Linked DNA regions of Homo sapiens: all the other regions are linked to region 3. The links come from fine-mapping of genetic effects on gene expression. A gene starts in region 3. Each other region holds a variant in brackets. All regions are shown on one strand. Distances are between the middles of the regions. Region 1 overlaps ATG3 (autophagy related 3). Region 2 overlaps CCDC80 (coiled-coil domain containing 80). Region 3 holds the start of SLC35A5 (solute carrier family 35 member A5).

Region 1 (8,000 bases), 21 kb after region 3:
AGAAATACTTCTGGTCCCAAGCACTTCAGATAAGGGATAATCAGCCTATATTAAGATAACTAATAGCTTTTTGAGAAAATTTTGATGCAAGTTTAATTAAAATGTACATACGAGTCCTGTAGTTTTTTTAAACTCTTGTCTTTCCTTTTTTTTTTTTCCCTGAGACGGAGTTTCGCTCTTGTCGCCCAGGCTGGAGTGCAATGGTGCGATTTCGGCTCATTGCAACCTCCACCTTCCGGGTCCAAGCGATTCTCCTGTCTCAGCCTCCCAAGTAGCGGGGACTACAGGCACACGCCACCACGCTGAGCTAACTTTTGTATTTTTAGTAGAAACGGTTTCACCATGTTGGCTAGGCTGGTCTTGAACTTCCGACCTCAGATGATCCACCCGCCCCAGCTTCCCAAAGCATTGGGATTACAGGCGTGATCCACCGCACCTGGCCAAACTGTTCTGTTTCTCAGAAAGTGTTGTGATAGAGATTCAAACAAGGAAAGTAATTCATGGTAAAATATTAATGAGTTTTTCAAAATTTGAGGAGGTGCCATTGTGACTATTCTCATTAGAGTTCATTTGTAAAGATACTACTATTATTTGCCTCCTTATTTCAGAGAAATTGTGAGAATTTTCAGCATTTTTATATTGCTTTAATAAGTAAATAGGGTGTTTACAGTTTAATTTTAGTTATTCTTTTCTGCCGAATTTTACATAGGTATTACAGGAATAACGGAAGCCGTTAAAGAGATCACACTGGAAAATAAGGTACTGGTTAATTAGTTATATTTTTAAATTTAATGAGTAGTTATTTGCCTATCTATCTATCTATACACACACATATATAATCACCATATCTTTCTTATAAAAACCCTGGTTTTTTATTATCAAGCTCTTTTAAATTCCAGCTGTTTTCTTCCCCATTCATTTTTCTGTCTCAACACACCAAAACACTACTGCTGCCTAATGCATCTCTTATTTTCCTTAATTTGTAGTATGGTTAAGTAAAACAGCTTTTAGATTGTAACTTGTACAAACTACTAATTTTCACTGACTGGAGCAACTTCTAGGCTAGTTTAAAAGAGATGACTTTTTTGTTTTAAAATGTATTTAGTACCAAATGTCATATAAGTGGAGAATGTTGGGGTGGAATTAACTACTTGCTTACTAGTAGATGCTAATGATATATTAACATTTAAATTTTATAGCTTAAATAGTGCCATAAGCAATTTAATCATTCTCTCTGTATTTTCTTCAATTACTGGTAATTTGGGGTTTATTTGTTTTTGAAAATTTGAAAGCAAACTTTAGCTTGCATCATTCAAATTCATGACATTTTGAATGAATAGAAGCTTAATCTGTTAAGTTTTATTGCATGATTTATGGGGGTAAAACATAATTGGGTAGAGTTTTTTTGCTTGGAAATTTTGAGTTATTTTAGGCTGTTGTAGGTATTAGATTAGCTTTTCATTTCTCAGAGAGATCAACCGCAGTTGTCTTCATGTTTTTATATACCTGTAGTTGTTTGAAATGATATGAAAAAATAATATAAAATGCTTTCACCCTTGTCTTAATTATTTTTTTAACCATCAAATCACTTAGAGGATAGACTATTTGAATGGAATAATTGTGTTCCTAGTCTTATGACACTTTTGCTACAACAGTTACTAAAGATATTCTTTGTGTGTTTTTGTCATTTGGATCTTTCTAGATTTGTTACTGGGGCTTAACAGAAAGTGATAGAAACGAAGACAAGTTTTTTTTTTGTTTGTTTTGTTTTTTTATTTACAGTTTTATGCTTTAAGATTTAGTTCTTTGGCCTGAGAATTCATCATTTTGAAATTAGACTTTTTGGAGTGTTTGAATGACTTACGGAGAAATAACACAAATTGCTTTGCTGTTTTAGAAGATCTTGTTTACTCTGACCATTACTATATATGCTTCAGACTTTGGGAATGATAAATGGCACAGTAGTGTAGATAGTAGTGTTTTTCTTGGACGGGCTTATGGTAATTCCTTTAGTATTTTTTGTAACTTAGAATACTTGCCATCCAAGCAGAAGTATTAATCTTGGTTGTCAATTTCTATTCTACTTTATCAAGTATAAATATCACCAATATGATGAAACTTTTTCTTAATGATTAATTTGTTAAATATTAGCTCATATAATAATTACTCCGACACTGATGGTTTTGTGGTTTTGTGGTTTCAATTTTGGGTGTAAGAATGATTTAAGTTTTAAACATATGACTTAAGTTTCTAGTGTTAAATTAAACCACCCCTAAGTAAAATGTAACCTAGGTAAAACTAAATATTCAGTTTATCCACTTATTATGTTGACTTCAGATTTTCAGAATATTAATTTTGTGAAAACGATACCCAGATGTTAAACCTGTCCATCAATATTCTTTCACTTTAGAGCTAATATAGTTAAGAAATTGAACTGATATCTTGTGCATTTTAATAACTGTAAAGTCTGATAACTTGCCTAATTCAGCTAAGATATTGTTAACAAATTAGAATGTAATAGTGTTTGATTTATATTTTAGCTTATATTTGATTTACAGATATGTGCACTTTTTCCCCTTATAAGTGCACAAGTTAATATAATTTTGAACTGATTTTCTAATACTAATGAATTGATTAACCAAAAATACTGTTTTATTGGAAGTGCAACTGGCAATTATTTTTAAATAGCTTAGATGACTCTTACTGCTCCCATAATAACCTTTGTTATTTTTCAGTCACAGCACTTAGCACGTTACTTTTAATGACTGATATATGAATTCATTATCTTCATTGGAGTTTAAGGTTTTTGTGGACAAGAACTGCCTTGTCATTCTTATTTTCACAGTGGTTACCACTGTGCTAGCACATGGGTGTTCAGTGTTCAAATTAATGTATATACTTAAGTGATTTTAAATATAATTAATTTCAAAGGACAATATAAGGCTTCAAGATTGCTCAGCACTATGTGAAGAGGAAGAAGATGAAGATGAAGGAGAAGCTGCAGATATGGAAGGTATTCCTGTTCTAGATTTGCTTCAGTTCCACTAGAATATTGATTTAGAATATTTGTAATTTATGTGGATTAAGAATTCTTCATTGAGTTGTAAGTTTAGCATTTAGCAGCCTAGTGAGTGTTTTATATATGTTTAGTTCATAAATTTCATTAGTGTAAAACTTATCTTGATCTTGGACTCTTCTATTTTACTCCAAACATAGTCTTGGACAATATCATTTTTATTGGAATAACTATTAGTCATAAATATTTAATACTGGATACGGCTGCAAGATATTAATTCCTAACTGAATTATTTCAGAGCAGAACAAAGTTTGCTTATTATGCATTTTGTATTTTCTTTTCCCTCTTTGATAGCATCTTTCTATTAAAACCTGAAGATAGTGAGTTTCAATGGGGCCTTTTTTTTTTCTTTTTTTGAGACGGAGTCTCACTCTCGCCAGGCTGGAGTGCAGTGGTGCGATCTCTGCTCACTGCAACCGCCGTCTCCCAGGTTCAGGTGATTCTCTTGCCTCTGCCTCCTGAGTAACTGGGACTACAGGTGCATGCCACCACACCCAGCTAATTTTGGTATTTTTAGTAGAGACGGGATTTCACCATGTTGGCCAGGATGGTCTCGATCTCTTAACCTCATGATCGCCCACCTCGGCCTCCCCAAAGTGCTGGGATTACAGGTGTGAGCCACTGTGCTTGGCTAATGGGGCCTTTTGAACTACACAGAATCCCATCAGTTTCCCAAGATTCTGAAAAGTCCTCCTCCTAGAGTTGCCAGTTGAGAATCACTGCATTAGTGAATCATTCTTAAAAGAGAGAGAAACCCACTAGAACAGAGCAGTATGGGTCTGTGAGCACATGGTTATTCAAAGCTTTGTATTTCATGAGCATGATAATCTTTTTCAATACATTTGAAACCTCAGATATTTAAAAGTAGATGAAAAAATTGCTGTCACCAGGGTGACCTCTTTGTTAAATCCAGTTTATCTTTATTACACTTACCTTTTCTGCATTGATTCTGTTAACCATATCTTCCTCTTTTTTTTTTCTCTCTTGGTTTCTATAACACTGGGTTTTCTTACTCTTTCCTGGACTCTTTCTTCTAGTCATCTTCTATGATTCTTTTTCTTTCCCTCAGCTATTAAATGTTACTGTTCC[G/A]TGGGTTTCTTTTTTTTTTCCCCTTGCTTACTCTCTGTACTCCCAGATTTTTTCTTCTATAATGGCATTCTGTAGTTTGGCATGAAAATTTGTGCAACAAGAAAGATAGAGTATAAATTACATCCAGTACTTTGTGAGAGTTGAAATATGAATATATTTATATATGTAAATAGGGTGCATGTGTAAGAAGTTGGAAAAAGGAAAGGAATATGAAAAAAAGGCAGGCATTGAAGGCTGTAAGGCAGCTGAATGCCAAAAATACATAGACTTTAGAGTGAGATAGATTGTGTTTTGTAGCATGCAGAAGTAGAAGATGGTGCCAAGTAGAGTTGAAACACCATAATGGCAAGTGATGCTTGCTAGATCAAAAGTACCTTTCTGTTTGTTTTCAAAATTACTTTCAATTCCCCATGAAACCTAGCTATGTCTGTTCCTAAATTTTAGTGAGATTCTTGTCCTTATTTTCATGGTAAACTGCTGTTCCTTAAGGAAATCTGAATGAATTACTTGTAACCAAAATTGATCACAGCAGCCTCACATACCATCTGTATGCTAGGGACTTCCATATCTAGAGGTAGCCTAGATATTCTCAACTTCAGATGTATTTCAGTTTCATTTCCCCCTGGATGTCTCATAGTTGTCAGAAACTGACATCACTTTCTTGGACAAATATTGTTTCTGAATTTCATCTGTCTCTGAATGACATAGTTGACCAAGTTGGGGTGGTGGGGTAGCATAGAACCCTTCGAGTAAAGCACTGTTTTCAAAGTACAAGCTGTGGGATTGCCTTAAATATCTGATAGTCATTTAGTATGTTTATTATATTCCCCCTAGATAGAGTTAAAGAATTGCTATATATGTAATTTTGCTCAACAGTTGTGTTAATGGTATCTAATATAAAGGTAATTTTCATTTATTGAACAAATATTTATTGGGCAGTACAGTATTTATCAGGTATTGTCCTTGGTGTTGGAGATAAAGCAGTAGACATGATTTCATGGAGTTTATATTCTAATCAGTGGAGACAAAAAATAGATAAGCAAAATATATACAGTATTAGTTATAAGTGTTAAGGAAAAAATAAAGGAAGAAAGGGGTTAGAGAATCTTGGGGTGGGAATGAGTATTGCAATTTTTAAATAAATTGGTCAAGAAAAACCTAATTGAAAGTACACGCCATTTAAATAAAGCCTGGAAGGAAGTGAATGAAACTAGGTATTTGAGGGAAGAGTGCAAAGGTACTGAGGTGGGAACACGTTTGGCTTATGTAAAATATTGTAAGGTATGCTTATGTCCAGATAGGAGAGAAGGGAGAGTAGTAAAGGGTGGAGTCAGAGAGGTAACCAGGGACCAGATTCTATAAGGTCTTGACATTACTCAGAGTGAGACAAGCCATTGGAGGGTTTTGTTTGTTTGTTTGTTTTTCAAGTAGAGGAGTGACATTTCAACAGAATCACTGTGCAGTGGTGAGAATAGACTGAAGGGAGAAAGGGACAACAGGAGGCTGTTTGATAATCTAGGCAAGAAATGATGGTGGCTTGGGCTAGGGTCGTAACATTGGTAGGGATGAGAAACAGTAGAATGCTGGAATACTTTGAGGGTTGAGCCAAAGAGATTTGCTGCTGGATTGGATGTCATATGTGACAAGTGGAATAGTCAAGGGTGACTCCAAGGTTTTTGACCTGAGCTTCTAGAAAGATACCATTAACTGAGATGTGGAAAAATCAAAAGTGATTAGCTTTGGAGAGGGAGTCAGGAACTCAGTTTCAGACATGTGATATTTGCAGTGTTCATTAGTTATTTAGTAGAGACGTAAAATAAATAATCCAAGTCCGCAGGCAGGGAATAAATTTGAAAGTCATCAGTATTTGAAGTCATTGAGTCTGGATGAAATCGTTACAGAAATAAGTGTGGTTAGAGGAGAGACAAGGTCCAGAAACTGAGCCCTTGGTTACTGCAGCGTTTGATTTTATGGTTCTTTTTAAAGTAGAGGTGATGAAGAGGAACCAGCATAGAAGATACTGAAACAGCACTCAGTGATGAGGGAGGAAAGCCAGGAAAATATTTTAAAAGCCAAGGAAAGAAAGTATGTTCCAAGGAGAAGGGACTAAATCATGCCACATGTTCCTGATAGGTCAATTAAGATGAAAACTGGGAATTTACCACTGGATTCAGCAAAGAAGAGGTCACCGATGACTACGCAGTTACAGAAGTAGGCTTGTGTACACTGTGGAGCCACTGAGGACTCTACAGTATTATTATGTCAAGCCTTAAACATGCTGGCTTTCTCTGGGCTTTCGCCTTTGGAAGTATAGAATTAGCTCACTTATATCTATCTATTCAATATCTTCACTTAAAAACAAAGGCAAAACCCCAGTTTTTGAATGATACTATGAAGTAATACTTAAATTGGTTTAGGGAATTTTCTTGAACTTGAACTTGATTAATCTTTTGTTGTTTTTTTATAACAGAATATGAAGAGAGTGGATTGTTGGAAACAGATGAGGTTTGTAAATTGAGTTTTCTTTAGTTAATTTTTAATGGATGAACTTGGGGATGCATGTTCTTACTAATAATATATTGATCTTTCAAAGACATTCTAATTTGTTCATATTGATTATAGCATATAAAACGTAGCTTTGAGTTCCAAGTTCATTTACTCTTAAGAAAACAAAATATAGAATGGAAAAAATAAGTTTTCTAGAATGTCACATTCATACCGATTTAATGGTTGTAAATTTTTCTCTTTTATTATTTTCAGGCTACCCTAGATACAAGGAAAATAGTAGAAGCTTGTAAAGCCAAAACTGATGCTGGCGGTGAAGATGCTATTTTGCAAACCAGAACTTATGACCTTTACATCACTTATGATAAATATTACCAGACTCCACGATTATGGTTGTTTGGCTATGATGAGGTAAAAATGAAAAGCATTATATTTTAATATCAATATTTTAAATTGTTGGGTTTTAATTTCTTCTTCATTAGGTCCATGAGTATTTATTGCAGTGTTTCACATTTTGGAAATCATCTGTTTTACAGTTTTATGATTAATGTTGAACTTGATTCTTTCTTATTTTGAATGAACTATGAATTATTCAGTGTAACAATAATGCTAAGACATAAACAGAAATAATCTATTACATATTCCTTTTTTGAAGGCTTATGCCTTCAAAATGTGAGGGAAATTTAACTTGGTTTATTTTATTAAATTTTGTTTGGGATTACATCAGTTGGATATATAGGCATTTACAGAATGACCATGTCACATGTGAAGAGAGTGGATTGTTGTATGTATGTATTTTTCCCCTTAAGACAGAAAACTCATCTACTTAATTGAATTAAAGGATAATTGACAGGAAATCAACTTGTTTAACCTGTCATTCTTATGGCTATACATGGGAAACAAGAAAATAAAGTCAGTCTAAAAGATGAGCCACAAAGTTATAAAATGTTTTGATAGCCACAAACTTGTCTTTTTGTGAGATTTTTTTTCTGCATTGGGGGTAGCTGTCACAGAGCTTGGCTGTGACTCCTTCCTGTCCCTCCCTTGATATTAATAAATTGTAAAATTTCCCAGAAATCATTCTAAACAGTCTAGAATTCTAAATTGCAAGTGATGTGAGATGGAGAACTAAATATATTATAAACCTTGAGATTTAGGCTGAAAGTTTCTAAATAGTAATTTCTTTTTTTTTTTTTTTTTTTTTTTTTTTTTTTTTTTTTTTTTTGAGATGGAGTCTCGCTCTGTCGCCCAGGCTGGAGTGCAGTGGCGCAATCTCAGCTCATTGCAAGCTCTGCCTCCCGGGTTTACGCCATTCTCCTGCCTCAGCCTC
Region 2 (8,283 bases), 41 kb before region 3:
GGCCGAGGTGGGCAGAACACTTGAGGTCAGGAGTTCGAAACCAGCCTGGCCAACATGGTAAAATCCGTCTCTACTAAAAATACAAAAATTAGCCAGGCATGGTGGCATGCGCCTGTAGTCCCAGCTACCTGGGAGGCTGAGGTAGGACAATCGCTTGAACCTCGGAGGTGGAGATTGCGGTGAGCCGAGATCACACCACTGCACTCCAGCCTGGGTGACAGAGCAAGACTCCATCTCAAAAACAAAACAAAACAAAACAAAACAAAACAAAACAAAACAAAAAAAGACTCTTGACTGAAGTTTTCAGAAAGCAAATCCAGTCCTTTCTTCCAAGACCAAGCTCTTTAAATAATGTGTGTAAAATACTTGGCAGAATGCCGGACACAGCAGACTTGAAAGTGTCAGCTCCTTTTCTCCTTCCCCTCTATTCTTTTCACTATTCACAATAGTTTAAATATTCCTCTAGATCTTAACAGAATTGATATTTTCACTTTTAACAATGAAATAAGCTTTTTATCATTAAGATGTGTCAAAAGGTAAGCTGTAGTTACAGAGAAGTAACTAAGCTAATTGGAAATAAACTTAGAAAGATAAACTATATAATCCTTGTTAGTGACAAATTTTAAAGAAATTAGTCTTGCCAGGATTAAATTAAGGAATTGGTTTTATACTTTGTAACATTCCTACAAAAGACACATCGAGTGCCCCAAAGTTTGACCCTAATCGTGTTGCAGAAAGCAGGGACATTTAATTTCTAGTAGAAAAAGCCCCAGCAAACTTCTTTAATTAGATTTTGAACTAAAGAGAAGAGGCTCATGGGTCCTCCCTATTCTCACAGTAATTTCCTCACACTTTAATGTTTTCATGGGCTCTGACTGTTTAATCTACTAACAATAACTATTCCAATGTTATTCTAGGGAGCTCTGTTGTTGAGCGAGAAGACGTACCAGCCCATTTGGTGAAAGACATTCGTAACTATTTTCAAGTGAGCCCGGAGTACTTCTCCATGCTTCTAGTCGGAAAAGACGGAAATGTCAAATCCTGGTATCCTTCCCCAATGTGGTCCATGGTGATTGTGTACGATTTAATTGATTCGATGCAACTTCGGAGACAGGAAATGGCGATTCAGCAGTCACTGGGGATGCGCTGCCCAGAAGATGAGTATGCAGGCTATGGTTACCATAGTTACCACCAAGGATACCAGGATGGTTACCAGGATGACTACCGTCATCATGAGAGTTATCACCATGGATACCCTTACTGAGCAGAAATATGTAACCTTAGACTCAGCCAGTTTCCTCTGCAGCTGCTAAAACTACATGTGGCCAGCTCCATTCTTCCACACTGCGTACTACATTTCCTGCCTTTTTCTTTCAGTGTTTTTCTAAGACTAAATAAATAGCAAACTTTCACCTATTCATGAGTTATTATTGAAACCTCAAATCATAAAGACATTTAAAAGAATTGTTTTTCTAACTGGAGGGGCTCTAGTGCTAAATAATAGTACTGAAAATTGATATTATTTTCCTTTTCTTATATGAAGGACCTTATTTGGCATATAAAATTTTATAAAATATGTATTTAAAGCTTTTTCTTATTTTTTGTATTAATTGGTAAGTGAAAACTCTGTTAAAGATCACACCACAATGTTTTCAAGAAACATCTGAAAAGATAAAACAAAGAACAAATAACTTATAATACTTACTTAAATTGACACTTTTTGAAATGCCAGTCTGAAAATAATTAAGATATCTCTGCTTTGTATGAGTTTCTTTTATGAAACTTGATACCACGGGAGTCCAGTAATATTGGCCACAAAAGCCAGAGAAAGTACCAAGCCCAGCTTTGTTATCATAGCCACTTCCTGCCCTGCTTCTGTTATTTTTAGTGTTTTTTCAGATATAAATCGGGGTCCAGGAAATCCTCACCAGAATCTGGCACTGCAGCCAAAGGCGATACTTCCAGAGTTCTAGTAGGCTGCTATGGAATTTCTGGCATGAAAATTCTTGACCCCTCACACTTTACCCCCTGTACAGCACAGGCATACCATGGAGATATTACAGGATCAGTTCCAGACCACCATAATAAAGTGGATATCGCAATAAAGTGAGTCACACAAAATTTTTGGTTTCTCAGTGCATATAAAAGTTATGTTTACACTCTTTAGTAGTCTATTAAGTGTATAATAGCTTTATGTCCAAAAAATGTACATGTTTTATTTTAAAAATACTTTATTGCTAAAAATTGCTAATGATCATAATCTTTTTGCATTGATGTTGATGGCTGCTGAATGATCAGGGTGGTGGTTACTGAAGGTTGGGGGTGATGGTGGCAATTTCTTAAAATAAGACAGCAATGAAGTTTGCCACTTCGATTGACTTTTTCTTCATGAAAGATTTCTCTGCAGCATGTGATGCTGTATGATAGCATTTTACCAGTAGTACAACTTCTTTTGAAATTGGAGCCAATCCTCTCAAACCCTGTTGCTGCTTTATTAATGAAATTTATGTAATGTTGTAAATCCTTTGTTGTCATTTCAATAATGTACATAGCAACTTACGCGAGTAGATTCCATCTCAAGAAATCACTTTCTTCGTTCATTCATAAGAAGCAAGTCTTCATCTATTAAACTTTTGTAATGAGATTGCAGCAATTCAGTCACATCTTCAGGCTCCACTTCTAATTCCAGTTCTCTTGCTATTTCCACTATGTCTATAGCAGAGCTTCCTCCAATGAAGTCTTGGGCCTCTTAAAATCATCCATGAGGGATGGAATCAGTTTCCGAACTCATTGATCTTCCTATTTTGACCTTCTCCCATGAATCACGATGTTCTTAACAGCATCTAGAATGGTGAATCCTTTCCAGGTTTTTAATTTGCTTTGCCCAGATCCATTAGCGGGATCACAATCTGTGACAGTTATAGTCTTACGAAAAGTGCAAATGACTCCTTGATTCCTGTGCTGCACAATAGGTATTGTGTTAGCAGGCACGAAAATATTAATCTCCTTGTATATCTCTATCCAAGTTCTTGGGTGACTGGGTATATTGTCAGTGAACAGCTATATATATATATATTATAGTGGTCTGGAACTGATCATTTATATATATATTTTATATACATATATAAAATATATAATATATATTATATATATATATATTTTTTTCGAGATGGAGTCTCGCTCTGTCACCCAGGCTGGAGTGCAGTGGTGCGATCTTGGCTCACTGCAACCTCTGCCTCCGGGGTTCAAGTGATTCTCCTGCCTCAGACCCCTGAGTAGCTGGATTTACAGGCGCCCACCACTACACCCAGCTTATTTTTGTATTTTTAGTAGAGATGGGGTTTCACCATGTTAGTCAGGGTGGTCTCGAACTACTGACTTTGGCCTCGGCCTCCCAAAGTGCTGGGATTACAGGCATGAGCCACTGCGCCCGGCCCGAACAGCAATATTTTTAAAAGATTCTTTTTTTTTCTGAGCAGTAAGACTCAAAAAGTGAGCTTAAAATGTCCAGTAAACCATGCTGTCCATAGACATGCTGTCATTCAGGCTTTGTTGCTCCATTTATAGAGCACAGGCAGATTAGATTTAGCATAATTCTGAAAAGTCGTAGGATTTGGGGAAATGGTAAATGAGCATTGATTTCAACTTAAAATCACCAGCTGCGTTAACTTCTAACAAGGAGTAAGCCTGTTGGTTGAAGCTTTGAAGTGAGGCATTGACTACTCCTCTCTAGATACGTAAGTCTGAGATGGCATCTTCTTCCAATATAAGGCTGTTTCATCTCTTTTGAAAATCTATTGTTTAGTGTAGCCACTTTCATTAATTATCTTAACTAGATCTTCTGGATAACTTACTGCAGCTTCTACATCAACATTTGCTGCTTTACTTTGCACTTTTATGGATGCACAAGGCTTCTTTTCTTCAAACTCATGAACCAGACTCTGCTACCTTCAAACTTTTTTTCTGAAGCTTCCTCACCTCCCTTTAGCTTTCATAGAATTGAAGAGAGTTAGGGCCTTGCTCTGAACTAGGCTTTGGCTTAAGGGAATTTTGTGGCTGGCTTGATCTTCTATTCAGATGACTCAAAGTTTCTCCATATCAGCA[G/A]TAAGGCTGTTTTACTTTTTTATCATTCATGCATTCACAAAGTAGCACTTTTAATTTCCTTCAAGAACTTTTCCTTTGCATTTACAACTTGGTTGTTTGGCATAAGAGGCTTAGCTTTCAGCCTGTCTCAGCTTTTGACACACCTTCCTCACTAAGCTTATTCATTTCTAGCTTTTGATTTAAAGTGAAAGATTGCAACTTCCTCTCACTTGAAATACCTGGAGGCTATTTTAGGGTTATTAATTGATCTACTTTCAATATTGTGTCTCAGGGACTAAGGAGGCCTGAGAAGAAGGAGAAAGATTGGAGAAAGGTTGGTTGTTGGAGCAATCAGAACATACACACATTTATTAAGTTTACTGTGTTATATAAGTGTGGTTCATGGTGCCCCCAGTAATTATAATAGCAACATCAAAGATCGTTGACTACAGATTTTAATAACAGAGATAATAATGAAACAGTGTGAAATATGGCAAGAATTACCAAAATGTGACACAGAGACATAAAGTGAGTACATACTATTGCAAAAATGATGTCAACAGACTTCCTTGATGCAGGGTTGCCACAAACCTTCAATTTGTAAAAAATGCAGTATCTGAGAAGTATAATAAAATAAGATGTGCCTGTACTTACTTGCTAATGGACCTATTACCATACTGGCATCTTATAAAAAAAATTACAAGGAAGGAGATTATATCCAGGGATTCTTTTTGTTTTCAAGGCAAAGGTTACCAAGTTACAATGGACCAAAGTAGCTGGAATGCAAAGGAGTATAATCCTTGTCTTTGAAAAAAGAGCATTTGTTTCAATCATATGGCATATCAAAGTAAACTTTCTCCCTTCCTCCCTCCTTTCGTTGCTGCTGCTTCTTTTTTTTCTCTTTTTTTTTTTCTTTTTTTGGAGAGGGTCTCACTCTGTCACCCAGGCTGCAGTGCAGTAGTGCAATCTTGGCTCACTGCAAACTCAGCTTCCCTCAAACAATCCTCCCACCTCAGCATCCCAAGTTAGCTGGGACCACAGCCATGCTCCACCATGCCCAGCCATCCTTGCTTCTTTACTACATTTCTTTTTTCAACAAATATTTATCAAGTAATATTGTCAAGTAATATTTATGAGCTTCCCCTCAGATAGGCATTTAGCATCATGATGGCACCATCCTCTAACAATAATGGGAAGGCTATTTTCCACTGTTATTAATCATTAATTCTCCAAATCATTTTAGTATTATTATTAATTCTAATAAGTACAGAGATTAATAAATGCATTCAAACCACATGTGAATATTTGCTATAGGTTTATCTGTGCCTACTGTATGTTCAGATTTTTCTTTATATCTGAACTTTGTTATAAATAAATGACAGTAAAAATGGAATTTATAGTTCAATGAACTTGACAAATCACTTATTCTGCCATTCATTTTCCATAAAGACCATTCATTCTTCCTTGTTTTACAGGTAACTGAGCTCCAGAAAGCTCAAGTGACTTTAGAACTCAGTTCTTAGTGTGTGAATTATGCTCCCATCTCATCCCTCTTCCTTGATGGAGCACTTTCCTCCTCATTTTTTCTTGGATAGTCTGTACAAGCTGCCTGAGGTGTGCAGGAAAGTGAGCCACGTCGAAGTGTACTGCTTTTAAATTTTTGCCAGGATGAAGCATAGCCCAAAGTTGCCAATAAAAATGGATTTCTTTACCTTTCTGAAATTGTGTGATGACAATTTCTAAGTAAAGGACCCAAATCATGTCAACTTCAGGAAATATAATAATGAGGGAGCCAGGAGCAGTGAGGGGCTCACACCTGTAATCCCAGCACTTTGGGAGGCCAAGGTGAGCGGGTCGCTTGAGCCCAGGACTTCGAGACCAGCCTGGGCAACACGGCAAAACCCTGTCTCTACAAAAAAATACAAAAAATTAGCTGGGTAAGGTGGTGTGTGTCTGTGGTCCCAGCTATTCAGGAGGCTGAAGTGAGAGAATCGCTTGAGCCTAGGAGGTCGAGGCTTCAGTGTGCCGTGATCGTGCCACAGCACTCCATCATCATCATCCTGGGTGACAAAGTGAGACCCTGTCTCCCCACCAAAAAAAAGAGGGAGTTTCATCTCCCAAGAAAATGAATTAGATAGGAATAATAGAAAATTTACTCTCAGAATAATAGGGTTCTAGCTCCTGCAACCAAAAAAAGATAGTTCTTTTTTACAACCTGAGATTACTTTTTCAAGCATTTCTCCAGTTCCACTGGCATTGAAATAATAGTTAGCAATGCATCTGAGCTTTTCTTCCTCTAATGAGCAGGCAGAGAAGTCATAGATCATCATTTGGAGGACTATAAAATAAGACATAGCTTAGCAAAAGGACCAAAATACATTCAGAGGAGGATGCTATTGGTGAATGTCCTCAAAGCCTATAATCTGGAAAAATACAAGGCATATCTCTGAAACTGTGAGGATTAGCAAACTAGCTAACCTGAATCTCTGTCTTCTGGTAGTATAAACTAGGTAGTTTCAAATCTGAGTAGTTTCTCCATAAAAGCATTTCTTCCCAAACGTTTCTTACCAAACTCCCAAATAAATGAGAAAAATAAAATACAGTTTTATAATTTTTGAGAAAGATTATGGGATTATGGTATTTAAAAAGAAAAGCATTCTGTAGAGTTGGGGAAATCTGGAAGACTCTTGAGGACATAGCTTTGCCGAAATTGCTGGTTGTCACAAGACTCTTCAAAAACTACTTTTCATCAGACATCTCCCAGGGCTCTGAGGTGAATATTAATTCAGCAGAAAGATCCTTTTCTGCTACATAGGCAGGAGGTCCAGACACAGGGGAGTGGGTGCAACCCAGCTGGTCCCATTTTCTGTAATATAATTAACAATGAAGCTCATACTTTCTCAACTTCTAGAAGCCTGGAGGATGGAAGCAGCCCGAGAGTAGGGTGAATGATGGCCTCAGTGGGCCCTTCTTAATGTGTCTCAGTACTGAATGTGTGGAGATTGTAGAAAAATAGAAGGCCCTTGGAAAAAACCTCTGTTCGTTTCTCTGTTCGTTTCGCTCCCTGATCTCCCTGCCGGATTGCTTTTCTTTCCTTTCTCTTCCTTGGCTGTCCTTTACCTCATGGTGTGGGGTGTGCAGATAGCAGGTTGTGGCTTGGTGAGTGCTCTTCACTTCAGGTCAAGGTGAGGCACAGTTAACATGCTAACTACTTTCCTCAGTTCTCTCTGAGTTGTGTAAAGCTCCCGATGCCAGACTTCCTCTTAATTTTGCACATTATTAAAGTCCAAAGAGTTAAGATTTGGTGATGAGGGGCAAAGGGCCAGCTGTCACAGAAATCAATGAAATGATACACAGAAATGGGTATCATGAAAAGGCCACTGGACTTGGGAAAACTGGGTGCCTGTCCTTGCCCTGCCATGTACTTACCTGTGTGACTGGAGGTGAGATGTTTTACCTATGGGCCTCAGTTTCTCATTACAAAATGACAGAGAAGACTAGATACCTAAGTTCCTAAGTTTGTGACATTTGTGAATTTTTCTTGGCCCTCTGTGAGTAGAGTGCTAAATTTAGAGGCTTCCTGTGGTTGAACTGATGTCCAATTCTCAGGGAACCCAGACTTCTCAGTTCAGAACCCAGTTCCAGATTTTTGTGGGAATAGGGAAAGGTATTAAATAACTCCATTGAATTCTTTCCTGCATAATGCCCTGCTGTGGCTGAGACTCAATGAGGTCATCACCTCCAACACACAGAACCCCTCATCATCTCCTTACAGCCAGACTGGAGCTTCCAAGGACATCAGGTTGGCAAGGATTGTGAGTACCCTAAACATCTAAAGAGGCCCTCTAATAAGGGACATATTTGTTCTTCAACAGTTTCCTAACTTGAGACCACAAATGCGTAATCTCTCTAATATCCTAAAGCTTGGACAAACTGGGCAGCCCCTGAGCAGACCGCACAGAGCTTAAATGTCAGTGCTTTCCTTCCAGAAAGAAAAAGAATGGTCCTACACCTCCCAATCCATGGGCTGATACATATGCCAAGGGAGCCGGATGAAGAAGTGGGTGATTTTAAATAGCTAAGACTGCCCATGGGCAAACGTTCTTTGGCTTTTCTCCTCTGCAATAAGTATACCTTCCTCTCTCCTGGTCCTTTTCTCCTTTCCCAGGCCCCTCTATCAATAATAATTCTGGCTCTCAG
Region 3 (8,249 bases):
CTGAGTCCTTAAACTTTTTTTTTTCTTTTTTCTTGAGACAGTTTTGCTCTGTTGCCCAGGCTGGAGTGCAGTGGCATGATCTCGGCTCACTGCAATCTCTGCCTCCCGGGTTCATTCTCCTGCTTCAGTCTCCCTCATAGCTGGGATTACAGGCACACGCCAACAAACCCAGCTAATTTTTTGTATTTCTAGTAGAGATGGGTTTCACCATGTTGGCCAGCCTGGTCTCAAATTCCTGACCTCAAGTGATCCGCCGGCCTTGGCCTCCTAAAGTGCTGGGATTACAGCATGAGCCACTGTGCCTGGCTACGAGTCCTTAAACTTTTTGCTTGGTAATTTCAAACTACATATTCTCACAACATATCCTGCTTTTTTATGCCTCTGTTCCCTTTTACAGGCTGTTGCCTCTGTTTTGAATCCCCTTGTTCACCTTGACTTCTAGTGGATCAACTGACTTCTAATCAGCGAAGTGTTCTCTGATCCATTTGAACTCCACATCATCCCCTACCAAACAGAATATATAACTTTATCCTCTAGACAATCTCTGCATCTTCAGGATATATCAATTATTGCAGTTATTATAATGGATTTTCATGATGTGTTTACATTCATGTCTCTCCTAATAAACTAAGTCTTGAGGACAAGGTCTATATCTTATGCACTTTGAACCTGCTGCTAATACTTAGCCTAGTGCCTGGCAGGTAAATGTTAACTGCAGTAGAGACTTGGGTACACATCTGACTCTCCAAGTAGTAGACCATTAAAGGTCATATCATGATTGTATGTGTCCTCAATTGTGGGGAAAAGAGAGATCAGATTGTTACTGTGTCTGTGTAGAAAGAAGTAGACATAGGAGACTCCATTTTGTTCTGCAATCTGTAACCTTACCCCCAACCCTGTGCTCCCTGAAACAGGTGCTGTGTCAACTCAGGGTTAAATGGATTAAGGGCTGTGCAAGATGTGCTTTGTTAAACAAATGCTTGAAGGCAGCATGCTCGTTAAGAGTCATCACCACTCCCTAATCTCAAGTACGCAGGGACACAAAACACTGTGGAAAGCCGCAGCGACCTCTGCCTAGGAAAGCCAGGTATTGTCCAAGGTTTCTCCCCATGTGATAGTCTGAAATATGGCCTCGTGGGAAGGGAAAGACCTGACCGTCCCCCAGCCCGACACCTGTAAAGGGTCTGTGCTGAGGAGGATTAGTAAAAGAGGAAGGAACGCCTCTTTGCAGTTGAGACAAGAGGAAGGCATCTGTCTCCTGCTCGTCCCTGGGCAATGGAATGTCTCGGAGTAAAACCCGATTGTATATTCCATCTACTGAGATAGGGGAAAACCGCCTTAGGGCTGGAGGTGGGACATGCGGGCAACAATACTGCTCTTTAAGGCATTGAAATGTTTATGTGTATACATATCTAAAGCAAAGCACTTAATTCTTTACCTTGTTTATGATGCAGAGACCTTTGTTCACGTGTTTACCTGTTGACCCTCTCTCCACTACTATCCTATGATCCTGCCACATCCCACTCTCCGAGAAACACCCAATAATGATCAATAAATACTAATGGAACTCAGAGGCTGGCAGAGATCCTCCGTGTGCTGAGCGCCGGTCCCCTGGGCCCCCTTTTTTCTTTCTCTATACTTTGTCTATGTCCCTTTCTTTTCCAAGTCTCTCGTTCCACCTAACGAGAAACACCCACAGATGTGGAGGGGCAACCCACCCCTTCACTCAATAACTAGTAAGAAGTACTCAATACAGTTTTGTGGAATTAAAGTGTTTGCTTAAATCCCTACATAAAAAAAGATTTCTTAAATACATACTTATCAAAGCTTATAATTTATACTGTTGATACAATATGACCGCACAATATAATGCTGACACCTTACCATTGATACAATAATTACAATAGTAAGTACCTCACAAATGCCAAGTGACCAAACAAATATATCCTTCTACTTCAAAATAAGGCGCAATTACACATTTTGCTATAGGTCCAGAAACACCTGTTGATTGAATTAACAGTCAAATGTTACGACTGGTTCTTCACCAAAGGGTTTGATTTTTGTATCTGATTGACTCACATTTCATCCATTATCAAACATTTTTTCTTGTTGAGGAATGCAAGGTTAAATAATCAAATTTAAATATGCTTTATCACTCACATGAAGCAAAAGGCATTATTATTTCCATGTTATATATAACAGAACCAAAGGCAAGAGAGAGATGTGTGATTAGATGGAAGTGCTCCATGCATATACCAAGTCTTAACTTACCTTCATTGGCAGAATACTTCACTAGTAAGATGCGACTTGAGCTTAAAGCAATGAATATGGCACCTAGCAGGAATGTATACATTGTTGACAAGGAGCATATTACAGGATGACTACAGCACTGTTTTTCCATTCCACTGTTTTTTAATTACCTTAAAGAGAAAAACACTTTCATGAACGACCTTGTTGGCAGACCCTAAACGCAAATACCATTGATCGTGAGGACAAAAAAGGAATTTTTAAAAAATTTTGGCTATGACTATATCAGCACCAAGAAAGTTGAGGCATAAAGAAACTATGACAAAAGGAAAGTGAAAATCTGATAAGAGGGAGTACTCTGGAGACAGAAAACGTAGAACCAGATTAGACCTGCTGACAAAGGTAGCAGGTGAGCAAATGACACTTTGCAACAGCAGAAAAGAATTCTTCAAAGCAATTTTGAATTTTATTTTTAAATTTTATTTATTTATGTATTTTGAGACGGAGTCTCGCTCTGTCACCCAGGCTGGAGTGCAACGGCGCGGTCTTGGCTCACTGCAACCCCTACCTACCGGACTCAAGCGATTCTCCTGCGTCAGCCTCCAGAATAGCTGGGACTACAAGCGCCCGCCACCACGCCCGGCTAATTTTTGTATTTTTAGTAGAGACGGGGTTTCACTATGTTGGCCAGGCTGGTCTCGAACTCCTGACTGTGATCCGCCCGCCTCTGCCTCCCAAAGTGCTGGGATTACAGGCGTGAGCCACCGCGCCCGGCCTCGCTTTTACTCTTATTAGTAAATAATTTTGCTGTAAGATAAGGCTTTCAGAATTGTATTTTCCTCCTCTTTTCCCTCGGAGGAAAAAGCTTATTAGGACAGACTTCATTACAATAACGACCAAAATGGAAATATCTGAAACACTGCTGTAAAGTTTTACTGAACTAGTTAGTGTTTGAAATGGAGGAGATCGTAGAAATCAATGAATCTAAGGCCCTCTTTTGATAGGCTGAGGACACTAAACCCCAGGTTGGGTAAGTAACTTGCCCAAAGCCTCCCAGCGTACTGTAGGAATAGCGCATAGAGCCTGCGGGGAGTGGGGAGAAATGCCAATACTGACAGCCCCATTGGGCGCACGCCTACAGGACGCCTCCCCGACAGGAGGGGGCCAGATTTCCCTTCACAGTCAGGGACTACCCTTCTAGTCACACATGCGCAGTAGGGCTCTTCACTGGCGCACCCTCCCCTCAGACGCAGGCGCAATTCCTTGCCCGCGGGGCGCGGTTACCTCCCTCAGAAGAGCTTCTAGTGGAAGAACGCACATCCTAGAGCTGAGACAGTAACTGTCTAGCCCCGTAGTAGCAGCAGTAGCCTTTAGGGTCCATACGTGGAGAAGCTACAGTAGGTATAGGCGAAAAAGCCCCTCCCTCTAAGCCGCCTATTGCAGAACAAAAACCACGATTACGTCCGGATTGGGAAAAAGCGGACCCGACACCCATTGCGCAGGCACGTTCAGTGTTACGCTTCCGGAAGGAGGGGAGAAGCGGCTTATCCCGCCCCAGCCCGGCCCCTTTCTCACGTCACGTGCCGGGAGAGTCTAGTGTCACGTGAGGCCCCGGTGGCGGCGCAGCTACGGCAAGAGAGTGAGAAGGAAGGGAAGCCGGAAGGGGCGCGAGTGAAGCAAAGCGAGGACAGACAGCTCGCAGAGGGCGAGGGGTGCGTGTGCGTCCGCTTCTCACCTCAGGTCTCCCTTCGGCCCCGCTGCCCTCCCTCGCGGCTGGGTGACAGCTGGGTCCGGTCCGTCGCGGGCTGCCTGGGGTGCGAGGATCGCGCACCCCGTCTTCGCGCGCTGTGCCTGCCGCCCCGCCCCCTCGTCCCGCCCGTCCCGTCGCGTCGCGTCCCGTCCCCTCGGGTGCTGCCAGCCGGGTGCTGATGCGAGTCGGTGGCAGCGAGGACATTTTCTGACTCCCTGGCCCCTGACACGGCTGCACTTTCCATCCCGTCGCGGGGCCGGCCGCTACTCCGGCCCCAGGATGCAGAATGTGATTAATACTGTGAAGGGAAAGGCACTGGAAGTGGCTGAGTACCTGACCCCGGTCCTCAAGGTAAGCCAGGCCAGGGTTGCCGGGAGCTGTCAGGCACATGCTCGACTTTTCAGGGACCAGGCGCCGCAGGAGTCCCCGCTTTCTCCGGCGGGGCAAGGTGTAGGAAGGCAGTAGGGCTCGAGACACAGGGAAGTGTGCAGCCCCCACCCGTAGTCTTAACCGGCTGTTCGTTAGGGCTTTCTGACTCCTCAGGGGTAAACTTGGAGCGACGCTCTGCGTGTTCCTGCCTTCTCCCGTCATAACTCTGCGCGGTCGGGTACGTCGGGTTGGAAGGGTGTTCGGAGGCTGAGTAGATTGAAGAACGTTAAATCCAAACACTGGAAGTCTTTTAGCCTTTTTAAGCAAGGATTTTGCTTCTCTTTAAAAAATGAATTTAGTGTTTGACACACAGAGGTCAAAAGAGACCTGAGGTGAGGTCACTTTTCCTTTAAGTTTCATGAAAGTCCGCTGTAGTGGGGAAGTTGTGACTGCGATCCCAACTCGTTTAGATTTCAGAGGAAGGAGGTGAAATTGGCAACATTATCTCATTCAGTAACCTTGAACCCATCTAACGAGCAAAACCTTTTTCCCAAGCTTTTCAGATAGCCGTAGCTGGTTATTAGTGATAACAAGGCACGGTTTGACCTTCCTGGCTGTATAATTTTTAAAAATATATTGGCAACAGTACAGCATTTTTAAAGTAAAAAATTGTGACACATTAGCTGTTACAGTAGTGACTGATTTTTTTTTTAAAGGTAAATTTCTACAACTGCCTTCAAGCTTTTCTTTTATAACTCTTTTGGAGTGTTTTGTTGTAACTTCATTTTTGCTTTCTGAAAAGTGAGCAAGAATAGTAAATTAATGGGAAGTTCTTGCTTAGTTTTTGTTTTTTTTTTCTAGTTGTTTTTAAGCTTTCAGTTAGAATGTACCAATCTCAGTGTGGGGGTGAAATACCTTAATATGCTAAGAATAGTGGAGAGTTTTGCTTTGCTCCCTTTCCATGACAAAGGGAAGTACTAGGTCTATACTTTTTAAAATACGTTTTTGTAAAGCTCCTTTTAAAAGAATAACTTATTGGCCAAGTAAGAAATAAACCAGCGATTATAAATGAGAATTTCAACTGTTGCTTTGCTTACATTTGTTTACTGTGAAAGTCATTTTAAGATTATTCAGTCAAACTAAGATTGGAAAATAATTTTCACATTTGAATCAAATGCTTTTACATAATTATGTTAACTTTTCAGAATATCATATCTACCTAGGTATACAGTATTTTAATAATACACCATTGTACAACTTTTTAGTTTCCGGGAGAGAGGAGCAAGAGACTGCCCAAATGAAATATAAAATGTATGATGTAGAATTATGTTTTCAGGAGTCCATCATACTTGCTCACCAAACTGAAAAGGAACTGTTGGCATGTCAGTATGTATGGTATATGTCTTTAGTAAAAAGGAAAGAATGAATGACCGTCTCCTTGATACTCCTGTGCAAACTGTTGTTTACAGAGAGAATCCTTACAGTTTCCTGCTTAGGGAGGGCAAGGAGAAAGAACAAAATCCTCAGGAAATAAGTAATAGCCTTCTCCTAGCAAGTAAAAATTAAGAAAAATCATGTTTTGTTTGGAGTATGTACATGCAGTAAACACTGAAGTTCTTACAATCATCTCTAAGGTTCTGCTTAATTGGTAGAGGCCCCAATCTCATCTGCTCCATCCCCTGACTGCTGTTGCTTAAGCTAACCTGATCTCTTTATTATTCTGTTAAGCACACTCTTGGTTTGGGGTTTTGCATGTGCTCTTCCCTCTATCTGAAACGCGCTTCGCACTTAACAGCCTTATGGCATGTTCCTTTCCTTAAGGTTTTTAAGTCATTATTCAGTGAAGTCTTTGTTCTCTTACCATTCTATTTTAAATGGCCATCTCTCCCCAGCCACCCCACAGATTCCTCTCAGCTTCATTTTTCTTTATGGTATGTTATTCATTACCATTTGGCTTTTCTTCCTCAACTGGAGTTGAAACTCCTTATGAGGGCAAGAATAAATTTGTATTTATGTTATTCACCCCCAAATATCCCCACTGCCTCAAATAGTGTCTGGCACATAGTAAACATTTGTTGAATGAATAATGTTTATAAATGAGTGTTTTCATTTTTGTAGACTCTACCAGAAAATCTTACATATAACTTAAAGTTTAGAAAAATTTAGAGAATAGTGTGTCAGTATCTTGGTGGAGATGAGAATTAGAGGAAAATGCTAAATAATTTCTAGATTTGGTTTCTAACATTATTCAGTTTAAATAAGACTGGCTGAATTGTAAGATGTCTAAACATCTTTAAGACATTTTTGCTGTGCTGTAAAATAAAGGTATTTGTTCATTTCACAGAATCACTGTAAGGCTTTATTTTTATTTAAATCTTAGAATGTTTGTACATAGAGCTTGGCCGGGCGCAGTGGCTCACGCCTGTAATCCCAGCACATTGGGAGGCCGAGGCGGGTGGATCACCTGAGGTCAGGAGTTCGAGACCAGCCTGACAAACATGGAGAAACCCTGTCTCTACTAAAAATGCAAAAATTAGCCGGGCATGGTGGCACATGCCTGTAATCCCAGCTACAGGCAGGAGGCTGAGGCAGGAGAATCGCTTGAACCCGGGAGGTGGAGGTTGCCGTGAGCCAAGATGGCGCCACTGCACTCCAGCCTGGGCAACAGGAGTGAAACTCCATCTTAAAAAAAAAAAAAAAGAATGTTTCTACATAGAGCTTTACTCTATTATAGCACTGATCTGATAGTATTATAATTATTTTCATGTCTGTTTCCTACATTAGACTTGTATATTCCTGTGGTCATTACCAGTGAGTGAAACAGATAGATAGATATAGATAGATACCAATGAGGTAGGTAGATAGGTAGATTAGATAGATTATAGATTAGATAGATAGACTAATTTTTTTTTGTATGTGCTCTATTGCCTAGAAGGGCACCAGGCAAATAATTGCCCCCAAAATATATTTAATTGATAGTGAAACATGATATAATATTGTTTTTCTTTCTGCTTTTTTTAGGAATCAAAGTTTAAGGAAACAGGTGTAATTACCCCAGAAGAGGTGAGTGCTGAAGATATACTGAAGTCTTTTTATTTTACAATAATACTAAACTAGGTGGCTTTTCTGCTTCATAAGAAAACATCTTGAACTTTAATTTTGATTTGAGTAAAATTAGGTTTTATGACTGTGATTTATGGGAATTTCTACTTCCCATAGAAGAAAAGATGTAACTTCCCCGTCAGTTTGCCACTTCTCATATTTCTCTGTAGTTCCTCTTTATTTAGAAATGAGGGTGAAAGAAGGGATCAAAATGAGTCCTATGTCACTTATCCTTGACTTGTATTGGTGTTATATTGAGCTGTGCAGTAAGCTCTGTAATGTCTGTGGTGTCTTGGTTCTGTTTACATCAAATGTGAGTTTTCATGCTTTTCATTGGAAAACTTTGCTTACTACTTAGATATTGTTTTCTCTTAAGAGTTCTATTTCGTTGTCGGTGGAGAAGTAAATACTGGGCTAAAAACCTTTTCAGGCTCCAATTTTATGAATAATTATGGTTTTATCAGACTTAGGTTGTTCTTAATAAGAGACAATTTATTTAAGCTTGAATTTTTTTTTTTCTGCCAATGAAAACACCACTTTTTGGCAATAGAACTTTATTCACTGTTTTGAAACAAACGTTTTAAGCCTTATTTTATGATAAGGCTGCTGCTGTTAAGGTCCAAGGTGTGGAGCTAGAGAATTAACTGATCTTTCAATTTTCAGTTGTGATGGAATTTGTCTAGTTCCAAATCTTTGTGGTTTTTTTAATTTTTTTTTCTTGAGACGGAGTCTCCCTCTGTCACCAGGCTGGAGCACAGTGGCGCGATCTTGGCTCACTGCA

The links. PIP is the estimated chance that this variant, and not a neighbour inherited with it, causes the effect.
Region 1: its variant is the best candidate, but not a certain one, in a credible set for the expression of SLC35A5 in whole blood (INTERVAL, PIP 0.74).
Region 2: its variant is the best candidate, but not a certain one, in a credible set for the expression of SLC35A5 in T cells (TOPMed, PIP 0.89).

What each region holds. Positions count from the first base shown.
Region 1 is chr3:112,536,816-112,544,815 of GRCh38, reverse strand. It overlaps ATG3 (autophagy related 3), which reads left to right. Exons shown (of 12, transcript NM_022488.5): 6 at 710-759; 7 at 2,932-3,013; 8 at 6,636-6,670; 9 at 6,926-7,081. Among named protein-coding and RNA genes, the nearest start is that of ATG3, 21 kb to the left of the region's middle. RefSeq lists enhancers at 4,544-4,633, 4,714-4,763. The variant G/A (reference allele first, on the strand shown) is at 4,166.
Region 2 is chr3:112,598,398-112,606,680 of GRCh38, reverse strand. It overlaps CCDC80 (coiled-coil domain containing 80), which reads left to right. Exons shown (of 8, transcript NM_199511.3): 8 at 918-8,283. The coding sequence ends at 1,264. Among named protein-coding and RNA genes, the nearest start is that of CCDC80, 39 kb to the left of the region's middle. RefSeq lists an enhancer at 2,624-2,793. The variant G/A (reference allele first, on the strand shown) is at 4,105.
Region 3 is chr3:112,557,556-112,565,804 of GRCh38, reverse strand. SLC35A5 (solute carrier family 35 member A5) reads right to left here and starts at 3,760. Exons shown (of 7, transcript NM_017945.5): 1 at 3,532-3,760; 2 at 2,272-2,420. The coding sequence starts at 2,401. It overlaps ATG3 (autophagy related 3), which reads left to right and starts at 3,843. Exons shown (of 12, transcript NM_022488.5): 1 at 3,843-4,348; 2 at 7,388-7,429. The coding sequence starts at 4,277. RefSeq lists enhancers at 222-1,031, 1,032-1,841, 3,462-4,271, 4,272-5,081.